Linked DNA regions of Homo sapiens: region 1 is reported to be linked to region 2. The links are microRNA targets in miRTarBase. Many come from high-throughput screens and were not tested one by one. Region 2 holds a microRNA gene; the other region holds the end of a gene's coding sequence.

What was found. The annotated mature microRNA hsa-miR-6869-5p reads GUGAGUAGUGGCGCGCGGCGGC and lies in region 2 at 1,140-1,161, opposite strand. An mRNA with a match to its seed (bases 2 to 7 or 8) in the 3' UTR can be bound and repressed. Matches are read on the target gene's strand: a 7mer-m8 pairs with bases 2 to 8, a 7mer-A1 pairs with bases 2 to 7 and ends in A, and an 8mer does both.
Region 1: miRTarBase lists AP1S3 as a target of hsa-miR-6869-5p. Seed matches in the 3' UTR shown: 7mer-m8 at 2,265-2,271 and 7mer-m8 at 806-812.

Annotation. Positions count from the first base shown.
Region 1 is chr2:223,754,850-223,759,241 of GRCh38, forward strand. AP1S3 (adaptor related protein complex 1 subunit sigma 3) reads right to left here. Exons shown (of 5, transcript NM_001039569.2): 5 at 477-3,901. The coding sequence ends at 3,866. Among named protein-coding and RNA genes, the nearest start is that of AP1S3, 81 kb to the right of the region's middle.
Region 2 is chr20:1,391,801-1,396,192 of GRCh38, forward strand. MIR6869 (microRNA 6869) reads right to left here and starts at 1,161; the gene lies at 1,100-1,161. FKBP1A (FKBP prolyl isomerase 1A) reads right to left here and starts at 1,254. Exons shown (of 5, transcript NM_000801.5): 1 at 1,162-1,254; 2 at 1,034-1,081. The coding sequence starts at 1,198. It overlaps FKBP1A-SDCBP2 (FKBP1A-SDCBP2 readthrough (NMD candidate)), which reads right to left and starts at 1,372. Exons shown (of 10, transcript NR_037661.1): 1 at 1,162-1,372; 2 at 1,034-1,081. RefSeq lists an enhancer at 646-1,146 and silencers at 881-950, 961-1,060, 1,261-1,310.

The sequences.
Region 1 (4,392 bases), not on the chromosome of region 2:
GTGAGCTGAGATCACACCACTGTACTCCAGCCTGGGCAACAGAGTGAGACTCTGTCTCAAAAAAGATTAGAACAATACATTTGACTAAAGCTTTATCATTATTTTAGGAGGTTTGATATGGAAAAAAAAGTTTGAATCAAAAATCCATTTGCTTTATCACAAAAATTGTCAACTTTACATTTGTTAATGAAAGAAAAGGAGCTGTCACTAGATTTAAAAAATGATCACATCATTAATTACGTGTAAAGAGATCAGATTACCAAAATGTAGGTGAATGATGAGAAAAGTCAGTAGGAGCAAAAGCAATAAATACTCTTCTCCCATTTGCTACCACTTACTTTTGAAGTTGCTTCTTGTTGGTAGGTACCAAGAAAATAAAGAGGTCATATTAAAGAGACATCACCAGGAATTATGAGTAGCAATTTCAAACATAAAATCTGACTTAAAAAAAAGTGTATTCATGAAAACACACCAAGTTCCTCATTAAAACATGTTAAAACATTTTATTTTGGAAGTTTTATAGAAATTTAACATTTACTGTCTTTCTCTTGGTAGTTTTATAGTAATTATATAATATAAAGAAAACACAATGACTATTTTAGCCTAGGCCCATGGAAGATGTCCCTAAAATCCCTCAAATTTACCCCACTGTGCCATATAGATATGTTTACTTACTTTCATTTTTTTTTTTTTTTTTTTGAGACAGGGTCTCACTCTGTCACCCGGGCTGGAGTACAGTGGCGTGATCTCAGCTCACTGCAACCTCTGCCTCCCGGGTTCAAGCGATTCTCCTGCCTCAGCCTCCTGAGTAGCTGGCACTACAAGCATGTGCCACCACACTTGGCTAATTTTTGAATTTTTAGTAGAGACAGGGTTTCACCATGTTGGCCAGGCTGGTCTCGAACTCCTGACCTCAGGTGATCTGCCGCCTTGACCTCCCAAAGTGCTGGGATTACAGGCGTGAGCCACCTTGCCCAGAAGAGATATATTTACTTTCTATGTGTGACACTGATTGAAGTCTGAGAAGCCCTGTCCATAACTAAAGTGTCTAATATGGAATTATCCAGAACATGTGTAGTATATTTGAATGAGGTTCAAGAGATACCTTTATCCAAATATGGTGACAAATTTCAAAAGAACCGGAAAAACTATGATGGATTTACATGAGGTCCATCTTTACAAAATTGTATTGAAAAATAAAGAATTTGGCCGGGTGCAGCGGCTCATGCCTGTAATTCCAGCACTTTGGAAGGCCAAGGCGGGCGGATCACCTGAGGTCGGCGTTCAAGACCAGCCTGACCAACATGGAGAAATCCCAACTCTACCAAAAATACAAAATTAGCCAGGCGTGGTGGCGCATGCCTATAATCCCAGCTACTCGGGAGGCTGAGGCAGGAGAATCGTTTGAACCCAGGAGACGGAGGCTGCAGTGACCTGAGATCACACCATTGCACTCTGGCCTGGGTGACAAGAAGCGAGGAAAGAAAAGAAAGAAAAGAAAAGAAAAGAGAAAAAGAAAGAAAGAAAGGAGGGAGGGAGGAAGGGAAGGAAGGAAGGGAGGGAAGGAGAGAGAGAGAAGAAGGAAGGAAGAAAGGAAGGAAAAGAAAGAAAGAAAGAAAAGAAAGAAAGAAAGAAAAAAAGAAAGAAAAAATTCTAACACATTAAAAAGTTAAACCACAAAACTGAAGGTTAGCTAAAGTAAACACAGTGGTCAATCATACATGATAAACTTCAAGCTGATGCCATAATTGTAATTACATGGTAACCTGAAGAAATATTGGATAGTAAAAGCCTAATGATTATTTTATATGCTAATCTGAGTTATTTCCTTTGAACAATGGTTATATTGAGGAATTGGTGAATTTTTCCCTTTGTTCTCCTGCTTGCTTTGCTGTTTTCCCTAAATATGTCTGCTGAGATGAACTAAAGAGAACATTTTTCCATCGAGTTCTCTAAAAATCTACCAGATGGGATCTCCTAAAGAATCCAACAGGAAACACACTCTTCTAGGAAATCACTGGAGGTCCCAAACCACTCTAATATGAATGATACCAGACCTCAAAGCTAACATTGAAAATGCACAGGTAAAACATCAAATAGCAGGCAGCAAGACAGAATACTACAAGCTTTTACTTTTTCTTTTTTTTTTTTTTTTTCTTGAGACGCAGTCTTGCTCTGTCACCCGCCTGGAGTGCACTGGTATGACCTTGGCTCACTGCAACCTCTGCCTCCTGGGTTCAAGCCATTCCCCTGCCTCAGCCCCCTGAGTAGCTGGGATTACAGGCACCTGCCACCATGCCCGGCTAATTTTTTTGTTTGTTTGAGACGAAGTCTCGCTCTGTCGCCCAGGCTGGAGTGCAGTGGCACAATCTCAGCTCACTGCAACTTCTGCCTCCCAGGTTCAAGCGATTCTCCTGCCTCAGCCTCCCAAGTAGCTGGGACTACAGGCACGCACCACCACTCCCGGCTAATTTTTGTATTTTTAATAGAGGTGGGGTTTCACCTTGTTGGCGAGGATGGTCTTGATCTCTTGACCTTGTGATCCGCCCACCTCTGCCTCCCAAAGTGCTGGAATTATAGGCATGAGCCACTGTACCCGGCCTAATTTTTGTATTTTTAGTAGAGATGGGGTTTCATCATATTGGCCAGGCTGCTCTCGAACTCCTGACCTCAAGTGATCCACCTGCCTCGGCCTCCCAAAGTGCTGGGATTACAGGTGTAAGCCACCACTCCCGGCCTACAAGCTATTTCCCTGTAATATGTCTGATCACTGTTAGGACCTGGTTATACAGAATTTTCATTCCAGGAAGCACAAATGTGATATACTTACAGTAATAATGGTCAGCAGCAAATCTTTTCTTTGGGGAGGAAAGGGTAAGAAAAGAAAAAAGAAGGAAAGGAATCTACCATATAGGCTGTGATAATCTTAAATGCTCTAAGTAAGCCATGTAATAAGTCTTCAAATGCATTAGAGATACATTAAAACATATTTGAAATGAAATTTCCAGCATCTAAGAGTGCTTGGAACGTGAATTTTAAAAAATAGTAGCAATAATTATTATTGCTATTAATTCTTATCATACTATTTTAGAATAATAAAGGAAGTCATAGATGCTGTATCTCTAGGTCTCTATAAACCTTAATAAATATATAGTTCATAGAAAACCTTATTGGAATGTCCCTTATATTCAATTAAAAGATAAATTAAAACCTCAGTCAAGATAGCAGCTTCTAAGGCATCAAAAACACTTATTAAGTTCTATACTCTTTGGTTATTTTCATAATCCCAATTCTAAAAAAAATAAATGAATTCAGCACATTAAAATCAGACATTTTGTATGTGAATTGCAGTTACAGTACTATTAAGTGTATGAAAAATGTCTAGCATTACATATAAACTCTGCACTATTAACATAATTTTGAATTATTATACAATTTAGAAAACTAAACATTTAGAAAAAGTATTAATGACATCATATATACTTTACATTCAAAATCATGGATTATTACAATATTGTGTCAAATGCAAAAAAAATTGCAGCTAATGTATCTAAACCAGCTTAAAAACATAACATGGAGTTAATACATTACAAATATTGTCTGTTGGGTTAGGTGGTAGTTACTTTAAACATTTAGAGCTACAAGTACCTATACAGTATAACACAGACACATAATTTTTTTTAATAATACAGACACATAGTAATTATAAATATGTTAAACAACTTTAACTTTGTTAGTTAACAAAGAATCCCTTTAAATTATTTTTGGCATGGTGCCTGAGGCTCCATCAAAAAACCGGATGGGAGGCGTTGCTTATTTACAGCTTCATAACATGTAGTGCTGGAGTCTTCAAGTAGATTTCCAGTTAAAATGTAGGCTTGTTCATGTATTCTTCCATTGTCTGAAAGCGAACAATAAATTAGAACAATTTTCCCTTTAAGTCACAGCCTTCCGCAGACTGTGAAATCTTCTGCATTCTTTTATTTATTTGCCATTGTTGAAAACAAGTTGTCAAAAGGATACATGGATATAAAATCTTTGCATTCTAATCAAAGTTTGAGTATAATTTGTATACACATCCATATGGGGCTGGAATTAAGTAACTTTCAACTGAGAAAAAGTTAAGCTTGATCATAAAGTGAATGTCTGATAAGAGAAATGCTTGGCCAGTGTGGTGCTCACGCCTGTAATACCAGCACTTTGGGAGGCTGAGGTGGGCAGATCACCTGAGGCCAGCCTGGCCAACATGACAAAACCCCATCTCGATGAAAAATACAAAAATTACCCGAGTGTGGTGGCATGCACCTGTATTCCCAGCTACTCGGGAAGCTGAGGCAGGAGAATTGCTTGAACCGGGAGGCGGAGGTTGAAGTGAGCCAAGATTGCACCACT
Region 2 (4,392 bases):
GGAAGGTTGAGAAAGGGGAAGGAGGAGGGGGAGGGAAGGTTATTCGTATCAACAACTGTGGCTACACCAATCACTGCCACCCTTGTGGGACCCACAGCCACTGAGTCTCCGCCAACTCAGCTCTCCCCCTCCCCCGCCCCCATACAAACCAGGACAAGCTTGTAAGGAGAAGGAGTAAGACAGCCCCAAGGCACACGACTCTGATGTCTGAATTCTGGCTGGGGAGGGGGAGGTGTCTAAAATTTCCTTTGGCTTGTATTATCACTATGTATTAGCCTCCAGATGCTTATCTTTAAAATGAGGACGAGAAAAGTCTCTACTTCTAGAAGAGCTGGGGGACTAAATTACACGTGCAGCTTTCGGTCAGCCTGAGCCAGCGCTGTCACTGAGCCTTGGATTTGTAAGTGGCTCAAAAGTAAAAAGACGGAAGAAGGCCGTGCAGCTCTACTTCCCCCAAGGCCAGGAAGGGCCAAAGCAATGACTTAGGAAGTGGGATGTTTCCCCACCCTAGGCAAAGGGGCGAATTCCGAGTTCCCCGGAGGAAGCAGCAGCTCTGCAGACTCGGAATTACCTCGTCCTCATCTCCAGTGAAGGGAGGGATGGAAGTGGGGGCAGGGGCACAGAAATGGTACAAATCCTTCCTAATGGTCCCTGGCCAGAGCTCTGCCCATTCCTGAAAGTGTGACCTTGGGAAAGTGAGACCTTGGGAAAGTGACTTCGCCTCGCCAAGCCTCAGTTTCCTCATCTGTGCAGCGGGCATAAGGGCAGCATCTAAGGTGCAGAAATGCTTCTGACGGGTCAGATAACACCTAGCCCGCAGCCGACGCTCACAGCCGCCGATTCAGACCCGCCCGGGTTCCGCAAGCCCCAGGCTGCCCCTGAGCCACCGCCCAGGCCTCAGCCTCGGGCCATGCGGACCTCGCCGCCGCCACGCCCCGGACCCCAGGCCCCGGGCCCCCAGGCCTCGACGGCCAGCCGCACCCGGGCTGCGGACTGCGGCCCGGGCCCCCTCCCCGCTGGGCCCCCGACTCACCGGTGTAGTGCACCACGCAGGTCTGGCCGCGCTTGGGGAAGGTGCGCCCTGAGGAGACAGAGACGGGCATGCTGAGCCGATGCGCGCGGCGGCAGAGGTACTCCGAGCCGCCGCGCGCCACTACTCACCGTCTCCTGGGGAGATGGTTTCCACCTGCACTCCCATGGCGGCGGCGGACGCTGAGCGGGCGGGCGGCGCGACGGGCGGCGTGGACCAACAGCGACCTGGCGGCGGTTCCACGGCTCTGCCTAGTACCTCGGCGCGTCGCCTGCGCACGCGCACGCCCCCTCACGCCCAGCCCTGCGTGCGCGCCCCACACGGCGCGCGACGTCCCGGAAACCCAGGCCTCCGGAAGAGGGACCGGAAGCCCAGAAGCCCCGAGACCTCCGGAAGCCCGGAGGCCTCCGGATACAGCTGTGTTTGCCGGGTGACTTGCTTCGTTCTCCTGCCCTTCCTCTGTGCTTCCAGCCGGTTAAGCATCTCCCTGCCCAAAGAATGGGAGTAATAATAGGGGGTCCGCCAGTCACTGACTGGGTGACTGTCATCAGGTTTCCACTTAGAAGCACACAGTTACTCATCCTGGGAAGAGCATGGTTCTGAGAAGACAGCGCACAGGTGGTGGTAGTATGTTAGTATTTTATAAGTGGCTCAAGGTTGTAAGTTCTGCTTTTCTTCACTGGAGGAGGAGTTGTCCAAATTCATTCACTCACCCATAGCTTACATGCATACATTCTTATTGAGCATGTGAAAGTTGATAATACGAATTGGGTCACTCTTCTTATGCCCAACGGAATCAGAATCCAGGGGCCAGGGGAAAAGCACTGGAGGCACGCAGCGCCTGCTCCAAGAACCAATATTTCCACTAACTGCTGCGGAAATGGCCTGCTGTCCCCCTGAGACCAGATTCAGCTAGTAACTGCTGAAACAACCCGCCATAACCTAATACTAGTTTTACTTACCACTGTCAGTCACCAATCAGAGCTTGCCAGCTCCCTGAAACTTTACTAGTGCCAATGCATTTCCCTTTCTAATAAAACGCCCAGCCTTCTCTTTGTTTTTCGGACATACCAAAGACCACCAGATCTGTGTGTATGCTCCGAGTTGCGATTCTCGCTTCCCCAAATAAAACATTACATTTAGAGATTCATCTCCATATTTTATTTTGACTTTGACAAGCACCTTCTGTATGTCATGTACTGTGCTAGGTGCTGAGGATACAGCGGTGAAGGAGTCAGACTTAGTCCCTGACCTCACAGAATCTACGTATGATGTGGGAGAGATAATCAAATAACCTGTTTAAGTAAAAAAAGATACGGAATAAATGTAAAGTTTCAAATCTGTAATATTATGAGACAGTAATACATGCTGTGAGGGGCGTGTTAATATAACAGAGATGCCTCACTTAGTCTGGAATGTGGTCAGATATTTCCCTGAGTTAGCCAGGTTTAGCCAGGTTTAGCCAAGGTTAGAAGGCCAATTGTGTGTATGTGTTGGGGTAAGGGGAGGCAGAAGGAGCAGTACCTGCAGAGGCACTGTAACGCAAGAGAACACTGTGACATGGTCTAGGACATAAGGAGGCACATGTGACTAATCTTTCTCTGATCTGTGTGTGTGTGTGCTTCTGCATTAGTCGATTCTCACACTGCTATAAAGAATACCTGAGGCTGGGCACGGTGGCTCATGCCTGTAATCCCAGCACTTTGGGAAGCTGAGGCGGGCAGATCACTTGAGGCCAGGCGTTCAAGACCAGCCTGGCCAACATGGTGAAACCCAGTTTCTACTAAAAATACAAAAAAATTAGCCAGGCATGGTGGCACAGGCTTGTAATCCCAGCCACTTGAGAGGCTGAGGCATAAGAATTGCTTAAACCAGGAGGCGGAGGTTGTAGTGAGCCAAGATTGCACCTCTGCATTCCAGCCTGGGTGACAGAGTGAGAACCAGTCTCAAAAAAAAAAAAAAAAAAAAAAAATTCCTGAGACTGGGTAATTTATGGAGGAAAGAGGTTTAATTGACTCACAGTTCTGCATGGCTGGGAATCCTCAGGAAACTTACAATCATGGCAGAAGGGGAAGCAGGCATATCTTACACAGCAGCAGGCATGAGAGAGAGTATGTGAAGAGGAACTGTCAAACACCTATAAAACCATCATTTCTCATGAGAATGCACTCACTACCATGAGAACAGCATGGGGGAAACCACCCCCACCATCCAATCACCTCCCACCGGGTCCCTCCCTTGACCTCAGGATTATAGGGATTACAATTCAAGATAAGATTTGGGTGGGGACACAGAACTAAACCATACCAGCTCCTGTAGTGTTTTAAACATGACCTCACAGTTTTTTGACACCCCAACCCTCATCTATGTCCCCTTTCCTAAAATCTCAGTGAGCTCGTGACTGCTTTGGAAATTTTAATGTAGTAAGAATACAGGCTGTAACAGAACCAAATTAACTGTGGCTGAAAAGAGGCTGAAGTTGCTGTCTCTCTCATGTAACAGTTCAGAGGCAGGTGGTTCAGTGCAGGTAGGACTTCACAGGCTGCCCAGGGACTCATCCTTCTTCTACTTGTGGCTCCCCATCCTTAGAATCCTACCCTCATATGCATGGTCCAAGTTGGCTCTCCAACATATTTTCATCTCAGCTAGTGGGAAGGGGGAAAGGAGGAATGGGGGGTACATTCCCTTTTCCTTTAAGGGTACGACTTAGAATTGCACACATCTCTTCCCGTTATACTTCACATTGACTATAACTTAGTTATATGGTCAAATTTAGCTGCATGGGAGGCTAGGGAATAAAGTCTTCATTCTGGGTGTACACACACCCAACTAAAATCAGAGGTTCTGTGCTCATAGAATGGAAGAATGGAGATCGAAAGATGAAATTAAAAAGAGGGCCCCAGCAGTCGCCAGGACACTGCTTCACACCACCTAGAGAAAATCAGACTGCAGCGAGAATAAATGATGGAGAATGAGAGCAACCAGGGGCGAGAGAGTTCCTGGATTCCGTTTTCCCTGAAGCCTAGCAGAATAAGGCTTGCCTCACATTCATCCTGTGGTCTCTCTCATGGCTCTGAATTGGGTATCGGTTCAAAACATAGACCTGCCTTTGAGACAGTGGCCATCTCAATCCATGGATATAAGCTTTGTTTATATAGATGGGGGTTCCCCAAGAACCTCACATTTGCACCACTTCTTCCTCAGTGCTTTGGGAAAACACAGGAAAGCATGTAGCTATCAGTTCTGCCACCAGACCTAAGATGAATTGGACCTGGGGACAAGGGGCACTTATTAAGCATTTATCTGATTTTTTGAAGTAACTGGGAGAGTTCCTTTCTAAATTAATTTAGATTCTGTTTATA